4 linked regions of the Homo sapiens genome follow. The protein of the gene in region 2 purifies or fractionates together with the protein of the main gene of each other region. This does not show direct contact. Each region holds a gene or a part of one and is shown on either strand. Other genes may lie near its edges.

Region 1 (3,500 bases), on a different chromosome or scaffold from region 2:
GAAAATTCATCTGAATATTGCCTTCTTATCCAAAATATATGTTTTAATTAAATGCAAAAAAGTTCTCCTCCCCCATTTCTTAGGAAAAATTAGCACTCTGGAGTAATACGTTTTCCTGTGGCTTCCTGTCCCCTTGGTACTCTCAATTCAGATACATCTGTCTGAAAAGCCTGGATATACCAGGTGCGGTAGCTCACACCTGTAATCCCAGTACTTTGGGAGGCCAAAGTAGGAGGGTCACTTGAGGCCAAGAGTTCAAGATCAACCTGGGCAACATACCAAGACCCTGTCTCTACAATAAATAAAAATTATTTGGGCACAGTGATGCATGCCTGTAGTCCTAGCCACTTAGGAGGCTGAGATGGGAGGTTCGCTTGGGCCTAGGAGTTGGAGGCTGCAATGAGTTATGATCATGCCACTGTACTCCAGCCTGGGTGACAGGGTGAGAGCCTGTCTTAAGAAAAAAAAAAAGAAAAGAAAAAAAGAAAGAGGAAGGAAGGAAGGAAGGGCAGGTGGGCAAAGGGAAAGAAAAGAAAAGAAAAGAAAGAGAAAAGCCTGGATGCAGAGAATAGAACAAGGAACTAGGAATCAGAATGCTTATGTCAGGATATTGGCTCGGGGTTAATTCAACTGAATGGCTTCCACGCATCAAGCACTGCATTCGAAGGCATCCCTGTCCCAATCTTGATTAATCTGCATGCAAGAACCTTACGGCCCAGGAGGGTTTAACTGGAGTAAGTGCTCCCAAGAAACAGGAAGAACAAGCCATCCACAAAAGATAAAATTGGGGAGAACGTAGGAATTTAGCCAAGGCATTGATCTAAAAGTTATACCAGTCAATCCATGGTTACAGAGCAGTTATCTGACGACTGAAAAATTGTGTTCAATAAAACCCTTTCATAATTTTACATGACATTTGTATTTTGTATATTACTTTCTGGTTTATATCTTTCTCTTTAGCTTTTTACAAAGTTTCCTTTTGAAAATGCTAACCAGTCTCAACTATTCTAAGGGAAACGGCAAGAAATTCTTCTCCATGCTCCAGCCTAAAAGAAAGATGGCAGGAAGGAACATGTGGACCTCCCTGTGTTGTCCCTCTCCTTTAGGCACATTGGAAACTGAACAGAGCTTCACAAGATAGGAGGCACCTCAGCGACCCACCCACCTGCTTCTCCAGCCCTGTTCTACAAGGCCATAGGCATCTCACCTTCCATTGCTCCACCCAAGCCTTCCTCTAGAGGTGGTGCCATCACCAGTGTGGCTGTCTCCTCTGCTGTGGAGTGCTTGTACCTGACAAAATAGATGAGGTCTTGAATGTCATCAAGCACTGCAGCCTCTTCAAATATGTTATTTTCGTTCATTCCCAGATCTCTATTTTCAGCCACACGAGTATCAAGCATTTTTTCTGCTATGCTCAGAATTTGTGACTCAGAAGCACGGAAGACCTTATCTAGGACTTTTTCCATATTATAGGGCAGGCTCTCCTGCTGCGCTGACTTCAGTTTTGATGACATTTCTTGTAGCAAGGCTTCCAGCTCATGGACATTAAAGTACTTCTGGAACCGCTGCAAAGACTGTTGTTCTTTAAAGAAGCTGCTTATGATAAGTAAGTCCTCCCTCTTGTCACTATGCCCTGGCTCTACACTTGTATGTGGAGTCCAGTGGAACGAGTCATCTTCAGGTTCTGCAGCAGCAGACCCCTGGCTTTCTGTGCCCATGTACTTCTCTGTGTTCTCATGGTCCTCTTTTGAGAGTTCTCCCTCAGGCTCCCCTGCAAGCCCTGAGGTCTTCAGATGTTCCTCAGGGTTGTCGTTCTTCAGATAATCAGAATCTTTATTCTGAAACACTTCACCTAATTCTGGAGTCTGAATTTTTATGCTGTCAGAAAAGTCACTTCGTTCAAATGGTCTCTGTGCTTTCTTATCTGCCAGAGGGCGTTCTTTTTCCACCATTGTATTTGGTTCCCTGCCTCCTGTGTTGACCCCTTTGGCAGCAGTCTCACTTGTTTTTTCGCTATCCAAAATCATACTAGTTTCTTGCTTGCTTTCTTCAATTTCTGGATCTGGATGAATGGTCCCTAAAACTGCTCTGTCAGGGACTTGCAGATTAACATCAAACTGCCTGCCCTGATTCCCAGGGTTTTTTTCTTTAGACCGTTTTGCATTTATAGCGTTTTCATCCTCTAGTAGTTCTTCAGAGGGATAATCATCCTCTTCTACTTTAGAAAGGAAAGCTGGTCCTCCTGTGCTGTCAGTTTGGTCTGTCTGTCCTACCTCTGTGCCCTGCATTGCCTTGTGATGAAAAAACTCTTCATCCAAGGAGTCCTCTTTGGCTTCTCCCTCAGAGAGCCTTATCTTCTCACTCATTTGCTTACTGGCTGTGGCAGCCACATCTCTTTCTTGTTGCCAGGGAAGATTTCTTCCCAGAATGGGAACCTCGTCTTCCAGTTCTCTGGGCAAATCAATCTCATCTGGAGAGGAGAATCTAGGTTGGTTTTGAGTTTTAAGAACTAATTCCTCTTTCAATTCCTCACGTTGATGCTCCACTGAAAGCGTGTGCAGTTTGGCCCCATTTACCAAAGCGTCTCCCTCCACACTGTCTCTGGATGCGTTAGGGTGGTCATCTCCCATGAGTGGTGCACTACCCAGGGATTCCTGTTGAATCTTTCTGTCATTCATTTGATTCCCTGCAGCTTTCTGTGCAGATTCACTCTCTGAGCCACCTTCCAAAATCTGCTCTCCAGGCTTTTCTTCGTGGAGCATTCCTTTTGAGATATGAATAGCTGCTCCTTTTAGGTCATTTTCTGTATCATCATAAGCTGATTTTAATGTGTCTTTACCCTTTTCAGCAGCTGGCATAGAGTTGAGGTTATTGCTGTGAACAGAACTGTGCACAGTCATGCCTTCTTGATTTTCATCCTCTAATTCTGTCTTATCTTGTACCAGGCCCCTCTTGGATTCCTGAACTCCCCTCCCTTTTCCTTTAATGTGATGTTCTGCGTTTACTTCTTTGTCATTATTTGTTTTAGGAATGTCTACAATAAAAAGACCATCATCTACATTGTCAGGGTCACTATAATCTGTTGCTGACTGTGGTTTCCCCTGTTTGCTATCTGGGACTAATGCATCATCATCATCTTCTTTTTCTTCCTCTGAACTAGAGCTCTCTAAATCCATCGTATCTCTTGTTTCTTCACCTCCTGTGACAATAGAGAAGATAGTGTCCCCCCAGGTTGTTAGTATATTTTTATCATCATTTTTGATGCCAGGGGGCACAGTTAGCTGAACCTTGTCCTCTTCATTTGAATTCTGCTCTTTATCTGTTGGATATTTCTCAACGCCAGACTTTGCTGGAGTTTTCATATCTTCCCCATCTGTAAAGGTAAGTAATGGCAACTCATCAAAGTCTTCTTGGTTCTCCTCATCTTCCTTTCCAACTGCATAATACTCAGTATCCAATTCCTCATCAAAATCATCTTCTAATGAAGTAACGAGTCTGGT
Region 2 (3,500 bases):
ATTAATTTGGAGGGCAGCATTGTTATCCTCTTGATTCCTACTGAGCACATAATATCAACTTAAGCCTATAAGTCTTTTCACACATAGGTAGGCATGACTTATCTGTGCTGTACTTTTACAGTTGTTCTTTTAGACTCAAATGCAGGATCCTGAATTTATCCCCATTAGGTTGATCTTGTTAGATTCAACCTGTTGAAGTATTTTTGGTTCATGGTTGGATCATCTGGCACATTTGTTCTCCTGCCCAGCTTCTTGTCACCTGCAAATTTGGTAAATATGTTTTCTTTTCTCCATCTTAGTTATTAACAAAGATGTTGAGACAGGCCAAGCTGTAATCATTTCATTGTACCATTACTATTGCTGGTAGATTTTAATTGGCAAGATCAATTGTGTATGGATATAGAATTGTCAGGTTGGATTAACTATTCCATAATTATAACAGGAATTGTCTTTTAGGTGAGTAATCCTATTGTAGCTGCTTAATAAGCTATTTAATGAGAAACAATAAAAATTATAGTCTGCCAGGCATGGTGCCTCACACCTGTAATCCCCACACTTCGGGAGGCTAAAGTGGGAGGAAGTCTTGAGCCCAGGAGTTTGAGATCTGCTTGCACAGCAAATTGAGACCCCCGTCTCTACAAAAAAATAAAAAATTAGCTGGGCGTGGTGGTGCACACCTGTAATCTCAGCTACACAGGAGGCTGAGGCAGGAGGCTCCCTTAAGCCCGGGAGGTTGAGGCTACAGTGAGCTGTGTTTGTGCCACTGCATTCCGGCCTGGGTGACAGAATGAGACCCTGTCTCAAAAAGGAGAAAACAAGCACTTTGGGAGGCTGAGGCGGGTGGATCACAGGTCAGGAGATTGAGACCATCCTGGCTAACACAGTGAAACCCCATATCTATTAAAAATACAAAAACATTAGCTGGGTGTGGTGGCAGGCGCCTGTAGTCCCAGCTGCTTGGGAGGCTGAAGCAGGAGAATGGCAAGAACCCGGGAGGCAGAGCTTGTAGTGAGCCGAGATGGCGCCACTGCACTCCAGCCTGGGTGACAGAGCGAGACTCCGTCTCAAAAAACAAAACAAAACAAAACAAAACAAAACAAAAAAGAATGAACTATGGTCATGCATGAAATGAGGAACTAGTTTGAAAAGTTGGGGACCCTGCTTATATTCCTATATATAATAAAATATAATTCTTGTATGTTTAGATTATGTGAGGTCTTGATTATTCAGAAAGCCCTCTGGACTGACTAGAGGCAAATGTGGTATAGGGGAAAAGGTCCTAAACTTGGCCCTAACCATAGGTGTTTGTTCATTTATTTATTCAGCAAGTGTATATTGAGTGCCTACTGTACTTAAGCCCTGGAAATAAAATGTTGACAAAAACCAGATTTGATCTTTATCTTCAGTAGAGCTTACCTTCTAGTGGGGGAAACAATTGGATAATTACACAAATGTAATCATAATACTTTCTGTGATCTGTGTTCTGGACAGGTGTTGTCCAACAGAAATATAACGCAAGCCATGTATGTAATTTAAAATTTTCTAGTATCTACATTTGAAAAAGTAAAAAGAAACAAATTTTAATAGATTGTATGTAACCCAGTATATCTGAAATATTATTTCAACATGAAAGCAGTATTAAAAATTGAGATATTTTATATTCTTTTTCTTCAACTAAATCTTTGAAATCTTAAACTTGTGCCACATCTCAGCTTTGACTAGCTGTATTTAAAATGCTCAATAGCCACAGGGGAGCCACTGTATTGGACAGCACAGTTCTATACCCAGTTTTACGGATATAAAACTGGTGTTGGGCAAATTACTTTCCGTCTTTAGGACTCCTGCTTTCATCAGTAAAATGAAGGATTCAGACTTGTTTGTCTTCTAACAAAAAAATGTGGTTCCCTCCAGGTATGAGGGAGCCTTCAGAGGTGCCCTAAATAATCTGTATCTCGATCTGGGTGGTGCTTGTGTGGGTGTATGTATAATACATAAAAATTTATCAGGCAGTACACTTAAGATTTATACACTTAATAGTATCTTTGTTATATCTCAGTAAAAGTTTAAAAAAAAAAAGTTCACTTCCAGTTTGATTTGGTGCCCTTTGCTAAACTCACTCTTAGATGAGGAGACCTTCAGTGGAAATGTGTGATGTGAAAAATGCAAACAGCCAAGACTTTTTTTGTCTTCTTCCCACCCAGGATGTGTCTAGTCCGAATGAAGCAGGAAGGCCGGAGTGGGAAGTACATGTGTCGTATCATAGTTCATTTTATGTGGGAGGATGTTCAGCAGCGCGGCAGAGTCATGGGGGTAAGTGAGTGCTGTCAGATGCTTGTCCTGGACAATTCCAGAGAAGGGTTTGAGTTTGGAGTTTTATCTGTTGTAAAATGGCCCTGCTTTTAGATTTCTGTGAAATGCTGCCTAATATCAAGTGGCAGTTCCGCTAAAGTCACTTTTTCTGCCTCTGTGGAAACTAATACTCCACAGATACTTTATGTGTTTGTACACATTATAGTGATTTGTCAGTGTGAAGTCATCCTGTATGGAGATGGGATTGTAAAGCCCAAATCGTGGTGATAGGAGGGATGGATTTGGTGAATGGAGGGAATCAAATGATAATCCAGTTAAGGATACTATACCTTTGACACCAGTTCAATATTTGAACCAGTCCTTCTATAAATTAGTTCTGATGGGAGGCCCTGGTATGGGGCCTGCACTGTCTTCAGGAACTGAAACTCAAGCTCCTTGATCACTGGCAACCTAGAAGAGTCTGGTAAGATACCTCCTGAAAATGTACATTAGTACATTTAATAATTAACCTGAGAAAGGGGAATATATTATATATATATATATGTCACATGGGATGTAATGACAATAGAAAAATGAAACCAAAACACTAGAATATAGCTGGTTATACAGATCATAGTGTGTCCGGAGTTGGTTCCTTGTGGTGGGTTCTTGGTCTCGCGACTTCAAGAATGAAGCCGCAGACCTTCGCTGTGAGTGTTACAGCTCTTAAAGATGGTGTGTCCGGAGTTTCTTCCTTCCAGTGGGTTCGTGGTCTCGCTGACTTCAAGAATGAAGCCGCAGACCTTCACAGCAAGTGTTACCAGCTCTTAAAGGTGGTGCGGACCCAAAGAGTGAGCAGCAGCAAGATTTATGGTGAAGACCGAAAGAACAAAGCTTCCACAGTGTGGAAGGGGGACCTGAGCGGGTTGCCACTGCTGGCTAGGGTGGCCAGCTTTTATTCCCTTATTTGTCCCTGCCCATGTCTGCTGATTGGTCCATTTTACAGAGTGCTGATTGGTGCGTTTTTACAGAGTGCTGATTGGTGCATTTACAATCCTGTAGCTAGACACAGAGCGCTGATTGGTGCGTTTTTACAGAATGCTGATTGGTGCATTTACAATCCTCTAGCTAGACACAGAGCACTGATTGGTGCAAGTATCCACCCGACCCAGAAGCCCAGCTGGCTTCACCTCCCACTAGTATCTTCTTTT
Region 3 (3,500 bases), on a different chromosome or scaffold from region 2:
TCGGCGTACCCTGCCCTGCCCACCCTGCCCACATGAAGGAAGGGAAGCAAAAAGGAAGCATCTAGAAGGTTCCTGGAGCTTCACTTACTGATGCTCCCTTCTCCTCCAGGAACATGACAGCACAGAATTACACGTATGCAATCCGCTCCCGGCTCACCCATGTGCCGCAGGGCCATGACGGGGAGCTGCTCTGCCACCGGATAGAGCAGGAGTACCAAGCCGGCCCCCTGGAGCTGAACCGTGAGGCTGTCCTGAGGACCAGCACCAACCTAAACAGCCAGCAGGTCATCTACTCAGACAACAACGGCTACCAGATGCAGCGGAGGCCCTACGTTTCCTATGTGAACAACAGCATCGCCCGGGTATGTCCTGCAATGCCCACAAGGCACGCTCCCAATGGCGCCTTTCCTGGACCCATTAAGCATCAAATTGCAGCAGTAGAGGCCAGTAGAGGCCTCCAGTGAGAATGTTTTTTTCCTTTTTTTTAAGATGGAGTCTCACTCTGTCACCCAGGCTGGGGCGCAATGGAGCGATCTTGGCTCACTGCAACCTCTGCCTCCCAGGTTCAAGCGATTCTCCTGCCTCAGCCTCCCGAGTAGCTGGGATTACAGCCGCCTGCCACCATGCCCAGCTAATTTTTATATTTTTAGTAGAGATGGGGTTTCACAATGATGGCCAGGCTGGTCTTGAACGCCTGACCTCAGATGATCCACCCGCCTCAGCCTCCCAAAGTGCTGGGATTACAGGTGTGAGCCACCGCGCCCGGCCTCCAGAGAGAATTCTTTTAAAGCCTGTGTATCTGCCCGTTCAGGGCTTGAGCGTGCAGGCTGTGAGTCAGACTGGTGTCTGAATTCTGGTGCTACCACAGACAAGAATAGTATGTGCCTTGGCTTGTGCCTCGGTTTCCTCTCCTGTAAAATGGCTCCTTCATCAAAGGGTCATTCTGAGGATCCATGAGATGATGCGTGGCCAGGGCTTGGCCAGGGCCTGCACCCATGTCAGCTGAGCTGTATGCTAGGAAGCCACAGAGCTGGTGTCTGAACCCCAGTCTGTTGGTCTCCAAAGTCAGGGTCCCAGCCCCATGCTGCTGCTGTGCCTATGGGGAGCACCAGCTGGGGTGGCCAGAGGGTGATGCCTGACCTACCTTGCCCTTTGCCCCAATCGCCCACCTGGCGATGTTTCTGTCTGCAGAATTACTACCCCATGGTTCAGTCGGCCTTCATGGAGGATGGCAAAAGCAGGCTTGTGTTGCTGTCGGAGCGGGCACATGGCATCTCCAGCCAAGGGAATGGGCAGGTGGAGGTAGGAGGCACGGTCTGTCCTACAGCAGCCCCTCGCGGCCCCCTACAGGCATGCCCAGGTGCAAGCCGGGCCTCTCGGACAATGCCTTCCCGCAGGTCATGCTCCACCGGCGGCTGTGGAACAACTTCGACTGGGACCTGGGCTACAACCTCACGCTGAACGACACCTCAGTCGTCCACCCAGTGCTCTGGCTTCTGCTGGGATCCTGGTCCCTCACCACTGCCCTGCGCCAGAGGAGCGCACTGGCGCTGCAGCACAGGCCCGTGGTGCTGTTCGGAGACCTCGCTGGTAAAGGGGCACCCTTTCAGAGTAACATCATCACTGCCTCAGCACCAGCCAGGCCAGGGCGGGCCTTGGGAGGGGCCTGTGCCCTCATGACTCTGGGCAGCTTTTGGGCAGGAAGCGACCTCAGGGACCTCTAGCCCAAGCCCCTCATTTAACAGATGGGCAAACTGAGGGCAAACAGTGGCTCACTTAAGGTCATACAACTAGGAGGTACAGAGCTGGGACTCACCCATTTCACCATATGCCTCTTCCCTGTATCTTCTCCATTTTCTTCTCTGATGTATCTTTTCCTTTCTTAATATGACATTATGTCACCATGTCACTTTAGGTCTGGAGGCTTAGCATTTAAAAGACTGGTTTGTTAGCTGGGCATGGTGGCGCATGCCTGTAATCCTGTAATGCCAGCTACACGGGAGACTGAGGCAGGAGAATCGCTTGAACCCGGGAGGCAGAGGTTGCAGGGAGCTGAGATTGCACCGTTGCACCCCAGCCTGGGTGGCAAAGCGAGACTCTGTCTCAAAAGTAAAAATAAAAGACAAGTTGGGTCTGAATCTAGGTGTGCTGTCACCAGGTGGGGGTCTTTCTAATCTATAGTCTAACCTAAAGGACTTATTCTGTACCTCCACTGAGCTTCTGTAGATCAGATCAACAACCATGTAGTTCTGTGTCTCTATAAAGTAGCAGAACATGAGAAACATTAAACAATGATTACATTTAAAGATGGTCTTTTGGAGCTGCAAGACCTAGATACAATTTGCTGCCATTCTCACTAATCCTTAAACTCTTTTCTTTTTCTACTCACCTATGGAGGTTTTGATTAGCATGTGCTTTTAAGGTTCTCCCTGCTTTGGTTTTAGAGCCAGAACCCAGGGCAGTAGCCAGCAGGCAGGCTGTCACTCACCCATGCAACAAGCATATACTGAGCACTTGCAGTGTGCCTGTGCCATACACTGGAGATGCAGAAGAGCAGCCCGGACCCAGGAGAGTTTTCCTGGGCTGTTGGACAGGGGAGGCATGCTCGTATAGAGCCAGGATTCAGGGTGGAGAAGGAGCCATGCCATAGAGGGCCTGGTGTTTCGTGGGTGTAGAGGAGTGTGAGACCACAGCTGGGAGGAGGTCAGGGATCAGGTCCAGGGGGTGTCAATTAAGGTTCTTTGGAAGTAACAGAGCCTGAAGGGGCAGCTATTTGGGCAGAGCCTGGAGAAGCTCATGGAATCTAAGGAGGAGCTGGATACAAGGTCCAGACAGGCATGGGGCAGGGCAGCTCTAGGCATATCAGGAGCAGAGGCTCACAGCCATGTCTCCCAGGACGGCCATTGAGCCACCTCTGGTTCCCTTGCTTCAGATTCCCAGAAGAGGAAATCTGATTGGCCTAGCAGGGTCAGGTTCTGCTCCCAGACCAGTCAGTGGTTCCTTCTGTGTAGCTGGGGCTTTTCCTGCAAAGGGAGATGAGGCCATGTCTGAGAAAGCCCCATGGCTGTTGTCAGCTCCATCCCACCTGGCCTCACTCTGGTCTCTGTTGGTTGCAAGTAACGGAAACCCAACTTGAACTAGCTGAGCCCCCAGGGAGAGTGTATGGTGAGGCCCACATAACCAAGGGAAGGGCAGGGTGTAATTGGGCCTCAGGGCCTGGAGCCCTCGTGAGGCTGTCCTTGTTCGTCTCTCACCTGCACTTCTCTCTGTCTGCAGACTTTCCTTCACCTCCCACCTGGGATGTGACTCTGAACAGCTCTGGGGCTGCTCTCAAAGAGCAGCTCTGTCTTCCCCACTCAAAAGGACCTAAGACTTGGACTTTCCAGTTCCAAGTGCAAAAGTCCTAGGGAAAGATTCTGATTGGTCCTACTGGGGTCAGGTGGCCCATGCCTGGACCAATCAGCATGGCCTGGGGTATTGTAAGAAGATGGTAGCTCCAG
Region 4 (2,538 bases), on a different chromosome or scaffold from region 2:
TAAGCAGCCATGTGAGGCAGCCACAAGGACATGGGCAAGGCAGGCAGACATCCCCTGGGTCTGAGCCTTGGCTAGCAGGAAAGGGTCAGCCTGGGAACAGTCTCCAGATCCCTTTGGTACAAACAGCAGGGTTGCCTGCCTTCTCCCTGGGGCCGCCCAGCAGGGAGCCCATGTGCACAGGCAAAATGTTCCAAGTTGTGGGGCGGGGTTGGCAGCACCCCTGCAAGGCACTGGGCATCTGCCCAGGTGTCCATAGCATTCCCTGAATCTTCTGTACTTTTCCAGGGGGTGCTGAAGGAAGGGAGGCGTGGGAACCATCTGCCCCCAGCTTACTTTCCAGGTGATCTGGCATCCTGGGGACTTACCTGGTCAGGCCCCCAAGATCACCAGCCCTGCCCACCTCACTTCAGCTCTGTGCAGAGACCCAAACAGCCCCTGAGGCCCCAGAGCCTCCACCACACCCACACAGGACCAGGCAGTCAGGAGGCGCCTCACAGAGCTTTTTTTTTTTTTCTGATTGTTTTATTTGAAAACCCTAGGATATGTCCCCTCCCTCACCACACCCAACCCCCCGCCCCTGCCCCAGGACATGACGATGCCTCACACACACACACACACACACATACACACAAGGCCGTGAGCTGCACGCAGGAACATGGGCTGCACTCACGACAACATTGAAAAAATATACATTATATATGTACACCCGGGGCCCCCACGTCCCCTCCCGTCCCCGCAGCCTGGCCACACCAGGTCACGGAGGAGGGGCCGGGGCTGCAGGACCTCAGGACTGCAAGGGCAGGAAGGGAAACAGGACAAGAAAGGAAGGAAGTTGGAAAGGAGGGAGAAATGGGGTCCCCAGACTGAAATGGAAATGAGGTGGGGCGATCATAAGAGAAGCAGGGACGATGGTCCAGCTGAGGGAGCCCTGCAGAGGGGGAAAAGCTTCCCATGGACAGGAGAGAGAAGGGAAGGGGAGAGGAGAGGGTTTCCTTCAATCCCACCCCCAGCCCCAGCCCCAGCCATTGCAATCGTCACCCTCTCCCCAACACAGTGAGTGCTAAGGGGGCAGCTGCCATTGGGGGTAGAAAGGCAGCTGAAGTCCAGCCCACTTTCCAACCCAGCCAGCCCCAGTGCAAGGGGCACACCAGGAGCATGACAGCCCAGAAGTGAGGGATGGGGGGCCGGGGGAGGGGCAGGGCGGACTCCAGAGGGCCCGCTGGGGTTTTGAAATGAAAGGAGGACTGGTTCTGAAGCCTCTCTCCCTCTTGGTCTCTGTGTTCCCAGAAAGTCCTTCTCCCATGTCTGGAGTGTCTGTTTCACCAGGGCAGAATTCCCCCTCTGCGTGGGGAGAGGTGTAGGCCTTAGTAGCGGTGTGGGGGGGTCTCGATGATGCGTCTCTCGTCGCTGCTGGGGGAATCGGCCACCTCCGAGTCACTGCTGTCCTCATCCTCCTGCTGGCCCCCAACAGCCCCCGTCACACAGGACTGCCGATTCTGGTAGGACTGGAGGGCAGGAACAGAGAGGAGAAGGGATCAATGGCCTGCACACATCCCAGCCTCTCTTTCAGGGACCACACTTCCCTCGGTCCCCTTAACCCCTGTGTACCCCCTTCCCTGCCTGAACCTCTCTCCCTCCGGCTCACTGCAGCTCTGCGAACAGCCTCCACCCAGGCCTGCCCCTCCTCAGGAGTCCTCACCGTGTGTGCTCCACAGTCTTGACCCTACAGAACCCCGCTTCCCCAGGCCTCTCACCTCCATGGGGTTCACAATGATGGTGAGAGCTGAGTCATCCCAGAAGAGGTCTGGGTCCTTGGGGTCACTGGAGGCCCCTGGAGGCCCGCCGGCCCCTGAGACGCGGCGGTGAAGGGAATGGATGCGCACCAGGCCCAGGACGACCATGAGCACCAGGAAGCCCACGCACACCACAATGATGAGGGTTGCGGCGCTGGGTATCACTGCAGAGAGAGCGCGGGGGTGAGCAGAGCGTGACTAGGCACACCTGGGGGCACTTGGACAGGGGGCTGGGTAGGAAAAGAGGCAGCCCGGGCTGAAGGACTCCCAGGGCAGAACACACGGTGGCCGAGAAGAGAGGAACACCTGGAGAAGCCAGAAGAGAAACAGCCCACCAGGAAGGGCAGGAGACGAAAGGGGAGGAAGGGAGCTGCTGCAAGGCAAAGGAACAAACACAGAGGGAGGCAGGTGTACAGAGAGGCAAGGGCAGAGGAGGAAAAAGACTCCCTGCCCAACACTGTCATGAACAGCCCTATTCGCAGAGGACAGAGGGCAAGGACTGGAATCTGCCCCTGTCATTCCACCTGTGCCTTCCCCAGAGACCACTCAGCCTAGGAAAGAGGTGCCAGTGCCCAGTGAGGGAGAGGAGGGGCCCCCACACGGGCTTGGCTGAGCAGGAGGAGATGCAGGCTCCAGGCCTGGGCTGGCTGCAGGAAGAGGGCACTAGCACCTGAGGCTGGGGACAAGTCCAAGGGGCACAGAGCAGCCCCTTCCCTTACCCACCTGGACTGAGCTCACTCCGTGA

The links.
Region 1: the proteins of UQCC1 (region 2) and MIA3 purify together in Homo sapiens (affinity purification with mass spectrometry; one large-scale study listed by BioGRID and IntAct). This does not show direct contact.
Region 3: the proteins of UQCC1 (region 2) and MAN2B2 purify together in Homo sapiens (affinity purification with mass spectrometry; one large-scale study listed by BioGRID and IntAct). This does not show direct contact.
Region 4: the proteins of UQCC1 (region 2) and CLSTN3 purify together in Homo sapiens (affinity purification with mass spectrometry; one large-scale study listed by BioGRID and IntAct). This does not show direct contact.

The regions. Positions count from the first base shown.
Region 1 is NC_000001.11:222,628,097-222,631,596, reverse strand, and holds part of MIA3 (transport and Golgi organization protein 1 homolog isoform 1 precursor), read right to left. Parts: coding exon 1,208-3,500; intron 1-1,207.
Region 2 is NC_000020.11:35,345,974-35,349,473, reverse strand, and holds part of UQCC1 (ubiquinol-cytochrome c reductase complex assembly factor 1), read left to right. Parts: intron 1-2,201; coding exon 2,202-2,310; intron 2,311-3,500. UniProt on the Homo sapiens protein: Required for the assembly of the ubiquinol-cytochrome c reductase complex (mitochondrial respiratory chain complex III or cytochrome b-c1 complex). Involved in cytochrome b translation and/or stability.
Region 3 is NC_000004.12:6,609,689-6,613,188, forward strand, and holds part of MAN2B2 (epididymis-specific alpha-mannosidase isoform 1 precursor), read left to right. Parts: intron 1-109; coding exon 110-362; intron 363-1,191; coding exon 1,192-1,302; intron 1,303-1,397; coding exon 1,398-1,590; intron 1,591-3,500.
Region 4 is NC_000012.12:7,156,908-7,159,445, reverse strand, and holds the end of CLSTN3 (calsyntenin-3 precursor), read right to left. Parts: intron 1,958-2,538; coding exon 1,755-1,957; intron 1,506-1,754; coding exon 1,365-1,505; 3' UTR 501-1,364; downstream 1-500. UniProt on the Homo sapiens protein: Postsynaptic adhesion molecule that binds to presynaptic neurexins to mediate both excitatory and inhibitory synapse formation.